Regions from separate parts of the Homo sapiens genome. Here region 2 is linked to region 1. The links come from fine-mapping of genetic effects on gene expression. A gene starts in region 1. The other region holds a variant in brackets. All regions are shown on one strand. Distances are from middle to middle.

Evidence for each region. PIP is the estimated chance that this variant, and not a neighbour inherited with it, causes the effect.
Region 2: its variant is fine-mapped to the expression of WBP4 in whole blood (TOPMed, PIP above 0.99).

The regions. Positions count from the first base shown.
Region 1 is chr13:41,057,126-41,065,275 of GRCh38, forward strand. It overlaps WBP4 (WW domain binding protein 4), which reads left to right and starts at 4,384. Exons shown (of 10, transcript NM_007187.5): 1 at 4,384-4,550; 2 at 5,519-5,591; 3 at 7,891-7,953; 4 at 8,039-8,150. The coding sequence starts at 4,549. It overlaps TRE-TTC1-2 (tRNA-Glu (anticodon TTC) 1-2), which reads right to left and starts at 3,684; the gene lies at 3,613-3,684. It also overlaps a transcript of ELF1 not described here. RefSeq lists a silencer at 2,999-3,178.
Region 2 is chr13:40,888,722-40,896,871 of GRCh38, forward strand. It overlaps the pseudogene TPTE2P5. Among named protein-coding and RNA genes, the nearest start is that of MIR621, 82 kb to the left of the region's middle. The variant C/G (reference allele first, on the strand shown) is at 4,274.

The sequences.
Region 1 (8,150 bases):
GCAAACATTTACTGAACTTTCACGTCTTTTTTTTTTTTTTTTTTAAGAGATAAGGTCTTAGGGTCTTGCTCTGTCACCTGGAGTGTAGCGGCAACATCACAGCTCACTGCAGCCTTGAACTCCTGGGCTCAATGGATCCTCCCACCTTAGGCTTGCAAGTAGCTAGGACTACAGGCATGTGGCATCACACCTGGCTAATTTTTTTTTAATTTTATTTTTGTAGAGACAGGCTCTTGTTATGTTGTCCAGGCTCTCTCACTTTTTCTCTTTTTTTTCCCCCCACCCCGAGATGGAGTCTCTCTCTGTCTCCAAGGCTGGAGTGCAGTGGCACGATCCTGAGATCCTGGCTTACTGCAATCTCTGCCTCCAGGGCTCAAGTGATCCTCCCACCTTGGCCTCCTGAATAGCTGATACAGGTGCAGCGGGTGCCACCACGCCTGGCTAATTTTTTGTATTTTTGGTAGAGATGGGATTTCGCCATGTTGATCCACCTGCCTCAGCCTCCCAAAGTGCTAGGATTACAAGCATAAGCCACCACACCCTGCCTCTTTCATGTATCTTCTAATTACACCTAACAGTAGCAAATATTAAAGAGGTTATTTGGGTAAATCCACAGCACTCAGTGTCACTAATTTATGGCCCAAGAGACAGCACCTAAAATATGCCTGCCAATGGCACAAGCGTTAAGAATGAATCCTCACAAACTGATTACCTAGCCTTAATCAATTTAAGATATACGTCTTACTGACAGTAGTGAGCAGCTCTGTCTTCGAATACCAAGGTCACTTTCAACAAAGCAAGACAGATTATTCTCACACTTTAAGCCTAGATTTCATTCCTATAAAGTGAATTCTAATTAACTGATTGCTTTTCTCCATTCTATTAATTACAAATTAATATTCAACTCCTAAACATAAAATGTACGGACACAAAATATTCTACATGTTTCTTTATTGTTTGAATCTTTTAAAACAAGAATTTTTCACATGCCACTGCTACCTTTGGGTTTTCCAAGAGACAGAAATGGTTTAAAAATTTTTGTGACATAAAATGTCACTCCTTGATAAAAGAACCTGTTACCTAGTCAAAATTTATCAAGTTAAAATTCCTTTCTACATTCCCAGCTTGATCTCCCATGGCCCTCCCTGCAGGCACTCTGTGCTCCTGCCAAACCGACTACTTGCCAGCCTCATACTTGTTCCCCCTACCTCAGCTTTATGATTCACATTCCCCAACAGGAGAAATCCAATCAGTTCTTCAAGGTCCACTCTCCCCTCTAGGTCTCTTCTCCAGTCCTCTCCCTTGAGCAGAACCGATTCCTCACCTCTGTTACTCCAGTAGCACTTCTACAACTCAGATGTTGCCTTACCATATTCTACGTAATGCACAACTACACGAAAGATAAATCTGTGTTTTATACAGAGATGATGCAACTACTTCCTTTGTGTTCACCCCCAGGTATATAGTACAACTATTTGCAATTACTGAGTGCACAGTTGAAAATAACATCCATTTTAGCACCATTTGGTACAATGTTGTAAACTCATTACAAAATACAAGGTCAAGGCCTGGCGTGGTGGCTCATGCCTGTAATCCTAGCACTTTGGGAGGCCGAGGTGGGTGGATCACCTGAGGTCAGGGGTTCGAGACCAGCCTGGCCAACATGGTGAAACATTGTCTTTACTCAAAATACAAAAATTGGCCACGCGTGGTGGCGGGTGTCTGTAGTCCCAGCTACTTGGGAGGCTGAGGCACGAGAATAGCTTGAATCCGGGAGGCGGAGGTTGCAGTGAGCTGAGATCGCGCCAATGCCCTCCAGCCTGGGTTAACAGAGCGAGACTCCGTCTCAACAAAAAAAAGAAGAAAAAGTCAAAAGTTAAGCCCTCTCTGGGGACAATTAAGGCAGAGTTATCCGAGTTATCTTTCCTTCTTTCCAAATTTTCAACTACTGTAATTCTTTAGTAACTGCTTCTTAATAATGACACACTATTACTTATTTAAATGAAAATTCCACTTTCATTATCTATTCAGGAATCGCTCAACAATTCTTGTAACTCTATTTAAAATTTGTGAGTGATACGTGTTATCAAAAATGTATGGCTCTAAAGCCAGAGAACAGAGAAGGTGAAAAGTCTCATCACACAGCTAATCACAAAGACCAAAATATTATTCCATTCAGTATTCTATCCACTAGCTAACATAAAGAATACAAACATCAGTAACTTCAAAAGCATGTGGTGGTGCTTGGTGTGTAGCAAACACACAAATATTTGAATTAATGAAGACGATTTAAAATACTTAGGCTTTTTCTTTCTTTTTAACAAGGTAAGCCTAATTAATCCTTAATCACGCAGATCACATTAACAAATTTACTGTGCAGTTAAAGCTACAAAATAGTCTGGGAACACACATACTAACAACCAAAACATCTGCTTTCAGTAATGGCACTGACCAGAAACCCATCTACAAGAGTCACTTTTTCCTTCTTCGTTTGTTCCCAGAGGCCCAATAAACATTATAGCCGACCCTATTTTCTAATTTCAGCTTGCATTTAAGATAACGCTTTTGTTTCATTTACAGCTCACATGCTGCTGACACAGCTGTCCCTTCTTTGTAATAAACACAGGGCTTCTATATTTAAAAATACAGTGAAACTTTGTTTTAACGTCCCCTCCCCAGTCTCCAGCCAATTTTCTCTTTCCCAAGCCCCACCTCCACCCCAGGATGTTTTGCCGTTGTTTTAATCAATTTTTTTCTTTAAATCAACCGCGCTCAAAATGTTAGACCCTTTGGAAAGTCGATATACTTATTTAAAGCCATCTCATCAGAGTGGTATTTTTCTCCTCCATAGCTCGTGGTGTGTATTTTTAAAGGGAAAGAAAAAAGATTCTCGTTCCCAAAGGCCTTTTTTCGAGGGTACTTTCCGTGACTGCGACCAGCGCCCCTTAAGTCAAGTTGGGAAGACCTCGCAGGCCGGCCTCGCGCTTGCTCAGGCGCCGCGGGTGGAGACGCGAGCGCACACGCGGCGGAAAGGGGCGCCGGGCGGCTGCGCGGCCGGGAAAGCGCGTCCCCCCGGGAGGGCGCGGAAGGCACACTGTGTTCCGTGGGGCCTCGTAAATACCCTGCGGCCAGAGAACCACTAGAGCTACTGGTCCGGGCGCGGGCTCTGGGGCGCCCAGGGCAGGGGGGTCAGCCCGTCCTGCATAGGAAGAGTCGCAAGAGCGGCTGAAGAGGGTGTGGGCCGGACGGGGGCGCTGGGAGGAGATAACGCAAGGCCGGAGTTAATCATCACCTCCCGGGCGTCTGGAAAACTACGGGCCGGAGGGGCGGGGGAGCAGCCCAGGGGAAAGTGAAACTCCCTCAGGGCCCACCAGCCCCGTGAGCCGGAGGCGGGAGGGAGAAGGATCGGAAGCGCATTCGCTTCTCCAGCAGGCACGGCGTGGCACTCGAGGCTCCAAAAGCCGCAGCCCAGCTCCTGGCGCCACTAACTACAGTAATGCTTATTTTCTACAAACTCACCCAGACGGGGACAAGAAAGGAGCCAGAACACAAGATTTAAAAAGTCAGCCCTCCAAACCGATAGTTGCAAAAAAAAAGAAAAATAAGGAAGCGTTCCCATACCGGGAGTCGAACCCGGGCCACCTGGGTGAAAACCAGGAATCCTAACCGCTAGACCATATGGGAAGTGCTATGAGAAACTGCCGTGACCCACCTGACAAGCATAAGTGCCTCTGCCTCCTTCGCCGCACCTCTCGCCACCGCCGCCTCTGCGCTACTGAAGCTGCTGCTGCCGCCGCCGCCGCCGCCGCCGCCGCCGCCGCTGCTGCTGCCCACACGCTCCCGAGCTAGGGAACAAGCCCCATCCGAGCGCGTGGGCGTCGTAGGGGAGAGGAGGGGCGGGGCCGCTCCGCTGCAACAGCAAAGTTTGAGGCGAAGCCTAGCGACTCGCAGCGCCGGTCCCGCAGTTTCACCTCTTTTTTTTTTAACTCCGCCAGAGGACCCCGACCCACAGGTCCCGGTTGCTCCGCTGGTCAAAGTGCGTGCGGAGTAGTTGGCAAAGTTGAGAGCGGAGACGTCTCTGGGAACAGCTGTTTGCGTTCCGGGCGGAGGCGGCGCGCTGAGCTCCTTGGCCTTGAGCCAGCGAGCCTAGAAGGAGGATGGAGGTTTTGGGCCCCAGGGGAGGACACAGAGACGGCGGGATGGCGCAGGGACTTGAGGCTTGAGATCCCGTCCTTCAGCTCAGGTCCCGTCGCGCTTTTACCCCTTCCCGGTGACCTCAACCCCTTTATACCGACCCCACCTCTTTGGAGCCGGGAGTACCGCCCCTGTAGGGGGAGGGGAGAGGAGGCGATTTCGAACGCGGATTGGATCGTCTGGGCACCCGTAGTTGGGAACAGCGGAACGCTGGTCCCGGGGACTGAGTAAGGTGTCTGGATCGGAGGGAGGTTCGGGTGGGCATCGGGCGGCTGGAAGAGCTCGACTCGTCCCGCTGGGAAAGCGCGAGTCTGAGTGGAACCCTGGACGACTTGCAGAGCGGCTGGCGCAGTCATGTGAGTTGGGTCTCAGGCCCTGAACAACGAGGTGTTGTTTCTCTGGGCCGCCCTTTCTCGCCCGGGTCTTCCCCTCCTCTCCTCCCGCCCTTCGGCCGGGGGCGTGACAGACGCGTTCTTAACTCGCTCGGGACCGGCCCCAGACCTGCAGGGCCGGTTCTCAGGGCGGGGTAGAAATGTTACCCCGCTGAACGCCCTGGGGTATGGGGCACGGGCTCTAGGGGGAGGCCGGCGGCCGGTTCAGGGGGCTGGTTGGACGGCCGCGGGTGAAGCGACGCAGTGCTCTCTCTACGACGCTGTCGGGGGTCGCATGCACCCCTTGGGTTTCCGAAGCCCCTGAACCCTAGGGTATTGTGAAACTAGGGCTGGGCTGCGGCCTCCCCCGCCCACTGGAAGCGGCCAGCCCTGGATAGCGTAATGGTTTTTTTTTTTTTTTTTTTTTTTTTTTTGTCGGCCGTCTACGAAGTCCCATGGCTTTTCCAGTTCTCTCTTGCCTTGAGGCTCAAGAACAGTTTGTTTTAACTGAGAGTCTGGGAGGAACTACAGTTTTCCCCAGAGTAGTCTTGTACGTTGTTCTCTTGGTGGGAATAACTTGATTTAAGGCAAACTTTATGAGTTTCTTCAGGTTTCCATTACAGCAACCTCCCCCAAAGCCAGAAAGGATAAATGTTCTTCTAAGATGTTCCTTAGTTTTTCATAACGATGACGATAACAAGTGAGGAATTTTTGAAAGCCATTTTATTGAAGGGAGTTTTGTAATGAATCAGATACAGACTTTTTCTACTCCGCTGGCAACAGAATTTCAATTGACTGTGCTCCAACCAGATAAATAATAAAACGACTATACATAACAAGACAAGATTCAGTAGCAGGGGCATATATTTCAAACTTTAAAAACTGTAAAGCATGCAGAATTTAACCTTTTTTAAGTTTTACATGAGCTTAGCCTTGTTGTCTCTCTTTTTCAGGGCGGACTACTGGAAGTCACAGCCAAAGAAATTCTGTGATTACTGCAAGTGCTGGATAGCAGACAATAGGCCTGTATGATAATTCCGCTGTTAGAGATTCTAATAATAATTGTGTTGAATGAAGTGCTCCTTTTTGATGTAAACTCAGTTTACAAAGCACTTTTATGTACATTGCTCTTGCATTTTCAAAACATCAGAAGATTTCTGTCTTCTCAGTCCCCTATGAAAGCTGTGAGCCTTCTTCCTTTTCATCAACCTGACTTTGATTATATATTAAATTATTTCTCTGTGGCCTTTTGGGAAATGGGCAATGAGTTGGTCATATCATTCATGTTATGAAGCACCTATATTATAATGGTGGTGTTCATAATACTGTCATACCCAAAGAATTGTGGAAAGCCCTTAAAAAATAAAAGCAACATGTTTAGTTTTTCTTGTATATTTTGTGGTCTAGAAATAATCAAGTGTATTTAATGCAGAGCTGTGTATCTTTAGATGCTTAAATTTGAAAGAACACCATTATTTCCTTTCTCATGAAACAAAGTAACAACTCTGTTAGGTATGTTGTTAGTCTGTCTCATAGTTGAGATCCAGTTTTGAAGATGTAAAGCAAAAAGCACACCGCTGATTTTTCTCCCCTCTTGCATGTCAAAATACTATGTACATACCACATAAACACTAGGGTATCTGTTAAATATATTTTATGTTGATACCGTTTTTACTTGGCAAAGTTGGATGCACAAAGAATAGTAGTCTCATATTTTAACAATGCTGTGGATTTCTTCTGTAGACATTTATTTCCTGTTACCTGCAAGGTGTTTAGGATTTGGATTTTTTTTTGATGTTTTGGTCTTTTTGGATAGTTGCTAAAGTTCTTCACTATTTTACCTAGGCTATCCTTATAAATAAATACCATGAATTTTTAAAACCACACAGGTCACTTAAAGTCTCTCTTTCTTGGAGGTACCTAGGCTGTAAAATGAATTTTGTGAGTTATCTAGAGTAAGTAATCCCTTCCAGTGTAGTCTGTCTTTATCTTCTTGAGTTGGTAATACACATTGATTTAACCTTTAATTAGAAACAAAATTAATTTAATTTTGAATGGTCCTTTAATATTGTATTCTTTGTGTAGTGTAATCAACTTTAGGAAACGCAATGTATGAAAAACAGGAGGATTATCTGCTTTACAAAGTCACACTTTAAAGATGAATTCATGGTAGTATTTTAAAATAGCTCAGTTAATGCATCATGTAAGATTTGATTGACAGAACTTATTTTGCAGAGCTTGTGAGGAATTTCTTACTGCATTTAACTAGAAACTTGTAATTTAGGGAGCATTTCTGATTGTTTAAATAGATAATTGCGCTCACTCACCAGCCCCTGTCCCCAGTCATCTAGTGGCCATCACTCCCCATAGGTTATCATTTTTTTTTTTCATTTTCTTGCCTATCCTTCCATTGTTTCTACATGCATGTAGACACAAGTTCTTATTCCAGCATACATAAAAGGTAATGTACTGTATATATTATTCTGCACTAGTTTTAAAAAATTTAACAGTATGTAACTGGAGCTCCCTTTGTATCCATACATAAAGAGCTTCTTTCTCTCTGTTACAGTAGACTATGAGAATGTACCATAGTTTAACCAGTCAGTCCCTTAGAGATGGATACCGTATTGTTATTGCAAACAGTGCTGCAGTCAGTAAGCTTGTGTATATCATGATTTTGTACATGTGCAGGTATATCTATAGAATAAATTACCAGAAATGAAATTGCTGTGTCAAAGGGTAAATGTATTTGTAGTCTTGATAGATATTGCCAAATTATCCTCCATAGAAGTTGTACATTTTGAACCATTACCACATTGTATAAAAGTGTTTGCTTATAATTTACGAGGAATCTTAAAATACATACTTTTCTCCTAAATTTAAGGAATAAAGCAATAAAATCATTGTTCTCTATGTCCCTCCTTGTGACAAATAGAGCAATAAAATTCTAAAGGCTTTTGATGTTGAAAGTTGTTTAAGATTTTTTTCCCCAGTCTTTTGGCTTCATGTCACGTTTGAGTCCTCATTACAATCATAGTCACTAGATTAGTCATCAAGGGTACCTTGTATTTTTCTCCATTAATAAGGTCATCATGGTTTATTTTAAGAACCAAAGGAAACCTAGTCAGAGGACATAATAATAAACAATGTAGTTCCCTAGCATCATTTGATTAAAAGGGCCAATTTGCATTAAATTAATGTTTTCATCTTTTCTGCCATTCATTTTAATTTTAATTTTCTCATGTTTATGAGAAAATTATGTTTACTATGAATTTTATGATGTTTATGTAGTTTTCTTTTGTTATTTTCTCTTTTCATTTTCAAGAGTGTTGAATTTCATGAAAGAGGAAAGAATCATAAGGAAAATGTGGCAAAAAGGATCAGTGAGGTAATTTAGATTGTTTATTTGCTAATTTTTCTATGCAAATGTCAGTCCTTTATCTCACTTTCACTGTTATGTATGTCTTACATAGATTAAACAGAAAAGCCTGGATAAGGCAAAGGAAGAAGAAAAGGCATCAAAGGAGTTTGCTGCAATGGAGGCAGCTGCCCTGAAAGCATACCAAGAGGATTTGAAAAGACTTG
Region 2 (8,150 bases), 170 kb before region 1:
ACAAAGGGAAGCCCATCAGACTAACAGTGGATCTCTCGGCAGAAACTCTACAAGCCAGAAGAGAGTGGGGGCCAATATTCAACATTCTTAAAGAAAAGAATTTTCAACCCAGAATTTCATATCCAGCCAAATTAAGCTTCATAAGTGAAGGAGAAATAAAATTCTTTACAGACAAGTGAATGCTGAGAGATTTTGTCACCACCAGGTCTGCCTTACAAGAGCTCCTGAAGGAAGCACTAAACATGGAAAGGAACAACTGGTACCAGCCACTGCAAAAACATACCAAATTGTAAAGACCATAGAGGCTAGGAAGAAACTGCATCAACTAACAAGCAAAATAACCAGCTAACATCATAATGACAGGATCAAATTCACACATAACAATATTAACCTTAAATGTAAATGGACTAAATGCTCCAATTAAAAGACACAAACTGGCAAATTGGATAGAGTCAAGACCCATCAGTGTGCTGTATTCAGGAAACCCATCTCACGTGCAGAGACACACATAGGCTCAAAATAAATGGATGGAGGAAGATCTACCAAGCAAATGGAAAACAAAAAAAGCAGGGGTTGCAATCCTAGTCTCTGATAAAACAGACTTTAAACCAACAAAGATCAGAAGAGACAAAGAAGGCCATTACATAATGGTAAAGGGATCAATTCAACAAGAAAAGTTAACTATCCTAAATATATATAAACCCAAAACAGGAGCACCCAGATTCATAAGCAAGTCCTTAGAGACCTACAAAGAGACTTAGACTCCCACACAATAATAATGGGAGACTTTAACATGCCACTGTCAATATTAGACAGATCCACAAGACAGAAAGTTAACAAGGATATCCAGGAATTGAACTCAGCTCCGCACCAAGTGGACCTAATAGACATCTACAGAACTCTCCACCCCAAATCAACAGAATATACATTCTTCTCAGCACCACACCACACTTATTCCAAAATTGACTACATAGTTGGAAGTAAAGCACTCCTCAGCAAATGTAAAAGAACAGAAATTATAACAAACTGTGTCTCAGACCACAGTGCAATCAAACCAGAACTCAGGATTAAGAAACTCACTCAAAACTGCTCAACTACATGGAAACTGAACAACCTGCTCCTGAATGACTACTTGGGTACATAACGAAATAAAGGCAGAAATAAAGACGTTCTTTTAAATCAATGAGAACAAAGACACAACATACCAGAATCTCTGGGACACATTTAAAGCAGTGTGTAGACAGAAATTTATAGTACTAAATGCCCACAAGAGCAAGCAGGAAAGATCTAAAATTGACACCATAACATCACAATTAAAAGAACTAGAGAAGCAAGAGCAAACACTTCAAAAGCTAGCAGAAGCCAAGAAATAACTGAAGTGAAGGAGACAGAGACACAAAAAACCCTTCAAAAAATCAATGAATCCAGAAGCTGGTTTTTTGAAAAGATCAACAAAATTGATAGACTGCTAGCAAGATTAACAAAGAAGACAAGAGAGTAGAATCAAATAGATGCAATAAAAAATGATAAAGGGGATATCACAACCGATCCCACAGAAATACAAACTACCATCAGAGAATACTCTACACAACTCTATGCAAATGAACTAGAAAATCTAGAAGAAATTGATAAATTCCTGGACACATACACCCTCCCAAGACTAAACCAGGAAGAAGTTGAATCCCTGAATACACCAATAACAGGCTTTAAAATTGAGGCAATAATTAATACCCTACCAACCAAAAAAAGTCCAGGACCAGACGGATTCACAGCTGAATTCTACCAGAGGTACAAAGAGGAGCTGGTACCATTCCTTCTGAAACTATTCCAATCAATAGAAAAAGAGGGAGTCCTCCCTAACTCATTTTATGAGGCCAGCATCATCCTGATACCAAAGCCTGGCAGAGACACAACAAAAAAAAAGAATTTTAGACCAATATCCCTGATGAACATCAACACAAAAATCCTCAATAAAATACTGACAAACCGAATCCAGCAGCACATCAAAAAGCTTATCCACCATGATCAAGTGGGCTTCATCCCAGGAATGCAAGGCTGGTTGAACATATGCAAATCAATAAATGTAATCCAGCATATAAACAGATCCAAAGACAAAAACCACATGATTATCTCAATAGATGCAGAAAAGGCCTTTGACAAAATTCAACAACACTTCATGCTAACAACTCTCAATAAATTAGGTATTGATGGGATGTATCTCAAAATAATAAGAGCTATTTATGACAAACCCACAGCCAATATCATACTGAATGGGCAAAAACTGGAAGCATTCCCTTTGAAAACTGGCACAAGACAGGGATGCCCTCTCTCACCACTCCTATTCCACATAGTGTTGGAAGTTCTGGCCAGGGCAATCAGGCAGGAGAAAGAAATAAAGGGTATTCAATTAGGAAAAGAGGAAGTCAAATTGGCCCTGTTTGCAGATGACATGATTGTATATTTAGAAAACCCCATTGTCTCAGCCCAAAATCTCCTTAAGCTGATAAGCAACTTCAGCAAAGTCTCAGGATACAAAATCAATGTGCAAAAATCACAAGCATTCCCATACAACAATAACAGACAAACAGAGAGCCAAATCATGAGTGAACTCCCATTCACAATTGCTTCAAAGAGAATAAAATACCTAGGAATCCAACTTACAAGGGATGTGAAGGACTTGTTCAAGGAGAATTACAAACCACTGCTCAACGAAATAAAAGAGGACACAAACAAATGGAAGAACATTCCATGCTCATGGGTAGGAAGAATCAGTATCATGAAAATGGCCATACTGCCCAAGGTAATTTATAGATTCAATGCCATCCCCATCAAGCTACCAATGACTTTCTTCACAGAATTGGAAAAAACGACTTTCAAGTTCATATGGAACCAAAAAAGAGCCCACATCACCAAGTCAATCCTAAGCCAAAAGAACAAAGCTGGAGGCATCATGCTACTTGACTTCAAACTATACTACAAGGGTACGGTAACCAAAACAGTATGGTACTGGTACCAAAACAGAGATATAGACCAATGGAACAGAACAGAGCCCTCAGAAATAATACCACACATCTACAACCATCTGATCTTTGACAAACCTGAGAAAAACAAGAAATGGGGAAAGGATTCCCTATTTAATAAATGGTGCTGGGAAAACTGGCCATATGTAGAAAGCTGAAACTGGATCCCTTCCTTACACCTTATACAAAATTTAATTCAAGATGGATTAAAGACTTAAATGTCAGATCTGAAACCATAAAAACCCTAGAAGAAAACCTAGGCAATACCATTCAGGACATAGGCATGGGCAAGGACTTCATGTCTAAAACACCAAAAGCAATGGCAACAAAAGCCAAAATTGACAAATGGGATCTAATTAAACTAAAGAGCTTCTGCACAGCAAAAGAAATTACCATCAGAGTGAACAGGCAACCTACAGAATGGGAGAAAATTTTTGCAATCTATCCATCTCACAAAGGGCTGACATCTAGAATTTATTAAGAACTTAAACAAATTTACAAGAAAAAATCAAACAACCCCATCAAAAAGTGGGCAAAGGATATGAACAGACACTTCTCAAAAGAAGACATTTATGCAGCCAACAGACACTTGAAAAAATGCTCATCATCACTGGTCATCAGAGAAATGCAAATCAAAACCACAATGAGATACCATCTCATACCAGTTAGAATGGCGATCATTAAAAAGTCAGGAAACAACAGGTGCTGGAGAGGATGTGGAGAAATAGGAACACTTTTACACTGTTGGTGGGACTGTAAACTAGTTCAGCCATTGTGGAAGACAGTGTGGCGATTCCTCAAGGATCTAGAACTAGAAATACCATTTGACCCAGCCATCCCATTAGTGGGCATATACCCAAAGGAGTATAAATCATGCTGCTATAAAGACACATGCACATGTATGTTTATTGCAGCACTATTCACAATAGCAAAGACTTGGAACCAACCCAAATGTCCATCAATGATAGATTGGATTAAGAAAACGTGGCACATATACACCATGGAATACTATGCAGCCATAAAAAAGGATGAGTTCATGTCCTTTGTAGGGACATGGATGAAGCTGGAAACCATCATTCTCAGCAAACTATCGCAAGGACAAAAAACCAAACACTGCATGCTCTCAATAATAGGTGGGAATTGAACAATAAGAACACTTGGATACAGGGTGGGGAACACCACACACCGGGGCCTGTCGTGGGGTGGGGGGAGTGGGGAGGGATACCATTAGGAGATATACCTAATGTAAATGA[C/G]GAGTTAATGGGTGCAGCACACCAACATGGCACGTGTATACATATGTAACAAACCTGCATATTGTGCACATGTACCCTAGAACTTAAAGTATAATAATAAAAGAAATCCGATTCTAAAATAATTACTGCGTTTATATGTGCATTCATCTGTTTTACAGTGGAGAAACATTTCACTGTATAAACATAATACAATGAATGCTAACATTTTTGTATTCATTCATTCAACAAATAATTACTAAACACCTATTATAAGATAGTATAGTCCTCAAGACTGTGGGGGATTTTTATTTTATTTGTAGAGAAAAGGGGCTTGCTCTGTCTCCCAGGCTGGAGTGCAGTGGAAGGATCATAGTTCACTGCAGCCTTGAACTTCTAGGCTCAAGTGATCCTCCGGTCTCAGCTTCCCTAGTAGCTGGAACTATAGACATGTGCCACCACTCTCAGCTAATTTTTCTGTTTTTTTGTAGAGACAGGGTCTCACTATGTTGCCCAGGCTGGTCTGAAACTCCTGGCCTCAAGCCATTCTCCTACCTCAGCCACCCAAAGTGCTAGGATTACAGGCATGAGCCACCACACCCAGCTGGATTTTTAAAATATTAAAGACACATCCTCGACCACTTGGAAGTATGTGAGATACTTTAAGAAAGTTACTAAAGTTCTAAATAAATAAATGTGCTAAAAGCTCAGGAGAGACCACACCTGACTGTGAAGAGGAAAGGCTTTATACACCCCTAAGGGCTTTGGACGGTAGAAGCATTCGCAAGAGTGAAGGGGTGGGTCTCCAGAGGCACAGGGAGTGGCCTAACTGGAGCACTGGGGTGTGAAAAGACACTGCATAGAGGGGTATGGAGAAGCCCAATTTGCCTCAAGTCCAGGACTTGACTTGAAAAAAAATCAGAGCAGTGAAAAATACAGATAAAAAAGAAGCAGAGCTGTGCATGGTGGCTTATGCCTGTAATCCCAACACTTTGGGAGGCTGAGGCAGGCTGATCACCTGAGGTAGGGAATTCGAGACCAGCCTGACCAACATGGAGAAACCCTGTCTCTACTAAAAATACAAAATTAGCTGGGTGTGGTGGTGCATGCCTGTAATCCCAGATACTCAGGAGGCTGAGGCAGGAGAATCGCTTGAACCTGGGAGGCAGAAGTTGTGGTGAGCCAAGATCGTGCCATTGCACTCCAGACTGGGGCAACAAGAGCAAAACACCATCTCAAAAAAAAAAAAAAAAAAAAAAAAAAAAAGGCCGGGCACAGTGGCTCATGCCTGTAATCCCAGCACTTTGGGAGGCCGAGGTAGGTGGATCATGAGGTCAAGAGATCAAGACCATCCTGGCCAACATGGTGAATTCCCGTCTGTACTAAAAATACAAAAAATTAGCCAGGCATGGTGGCAAACACCTGTAATCCCAGCTACTTGGGAGGCTGAGGCAGGAGAATCACTTGAACCCGGGAGGCAGAGGTTCCAGTGAGCCGAGATCGTGCCATTGCACTCCAGCCTGGGCAAAAAGAGCAAAACTCTTGTCTCATACACACACACACACACACACACACACACACACACACACACACACACAAAAAGAAGCAGAAGTTAACAACTTCTGAATGCTGGAGTAAGTTCACTTATTAAAATTAAAAATTAATAGTATCCTAATAGCATCTTTTACTCTCTAATCAAGGTTAGTCCCCTGAGTCTATCCTTACCCTTAAACACACAATCACATAGCATTTATATCTACTTTTTGTTTTCTTTATTCAAATAATGCTCTCACCTCTATTTTTAAGTGGCTAAAATCAGCATTTTTAATGCAAATATTAAAGTAAGCACCATAACATTATATAAAACAGTTTAAATGAAGAATTGAATTAGAATGTTATATTCTAATTTTTTCTATGAAAAGGATCGTTAGTTTTGCAAAAAGAATTTAAAAATCAAAAGGCAGACTTAACAAAAAGAGAAGCCCATTCACCCCTAGGTTCTTTGACTTCTTTTTATCAGATGATTATACCATCTGCCTTTAGCAAAAAACCTTCAAAATTTGCACCTTAAAATACTCTAACAAAGTGGTAACATAGGGAAAACTGCCAACATTTTTAATCAGACATCAAGTGATGGTATATGTATGTGGGGTATGTGGTCTCAAGTGTTTATTTTCTTTAGGAGCAAAGAAATGTAATAATTGTTTCCATAATAAGAAAAATATGAAATCATTTCACTGGGATAAGGGTGGAGTATACTATCTTTAATGTAATTTACATGTTTAAACTCTACATACATAAAAACAAATATTTCATAAGAATCTCTAGAATTCCCTAAAGTAAACTATGATTTCTTTTTTTTTTTTTTTTGAGACAGAGTTTCTGTCACCCAGGCTGGAGTGCAGTGGTGTGAACTCGGCTCACTTCAACCTCTGCCCTCCGGGTTCAAGTGATTCTCCTGCCAGCCTCCTGAGTAGCTAGAATTACAGGCATGAGCCACTGTGCCCAGCTATTTTTTTATAAAATAATATACCACCAATATTTTCTCATACACGGTATTAAGTGATAGTACTCTGGTTACTTTAAGGTGTCACTTCTGGTATATTTATCAAAAGGAGACAGAAATCCAATAGCTGGCAATGACACAGCAACAGTTACTGAAAAGAACTGTTAATATTATCTGAAAGATTAAAATTACATCTTGCTCCTTTAATTTTCAACTCATCTGAAAAATGAGGGCCTGAAAAGTACTGTGTTTATCACCACACTAAACCTGGCCACAAGGCACCCTATATTCACACTTCATGTTCCTGTAACTATTTACACATTGTCTATAAAAAGTTCCTTGTTTCACCTGAAAAGCAACACAGACTAGCATTCATATCTACTGAAAGCCATCATGACCTATGTAATTGTGCAGCATGAACAAAGAGGCCTTTATAAAGCCAAAGGCAAAGCTCTTAGTAACAACCTGTTTCAGCTGAGACAAGCTGACCTCCGCTTCTGAAATTATACTTAATCATTCACCAAAATAGCTGCATATAATAAACCACTTAAAGCAGCTTTTTAAAAAAAAGGTAAAGGGGGTTGGGTGCAGTGGCTCACACCTGTAATCCTGGCACTTTGGGAGGCTGAAGAGGAAGGATCACTTGAGCTCAGGTAGTTGAGACGGCAGTGAGCCATGATAGTGCCACTGCATTCCAGCATAGGCAACAGAGTGAGACCCTGTCTCCCCCAGCAAAAAAAAAAAAAAAAAGGGAAAAGAAGGTAGGGGCTAATTTTCTATGAATTCCCTTTTACACTTAATTCACTTTCAATGCTTGTACTTTCAAATGTTTCAATGTTTTTAAAAATGAAGTCTTAAGTCTTGATTCTGGCAGATAGTTCTAGAATTAGCACTAGTCCAATTTCAGAGGTGTTTATTGCAACCATTAAGAAACCATTCTATTTTCATTTAAGTCAAAAATACTTTAAAAGTTAACTTAAAACTTTGACAGTTTGCTTGAATGTTGTTCTCACATGTACCAGGAAGGATCTCAAGGTGTTAATATCCCAAAAGAGTATTCACAGGTTGTCAATAAGAATCCCTACTGTGCTGGATCATTAGTTCTCAACATTATATGTATTACCATCCACCTCTAAAGTCTCCTCTGCATAGCACAGAGTTTACTTTTTTCCAATGAAAGAAACTTCAAAATTAAAGAGATATCATTACTCTTAAGCAATCATGATATCCAGACACCACCATCTTAAGTGGTAAGTAAGATCCCACTTACCACCACAGGTTAACATGAAGGGATCTTTCCCAGAGACTAAAGAGCTGGGGCAATTTATTGGCAAACTTTTGAGAACCATATACTTCAAGACTATACTCATTAAATAATTGCTTCCCTGATCTTCA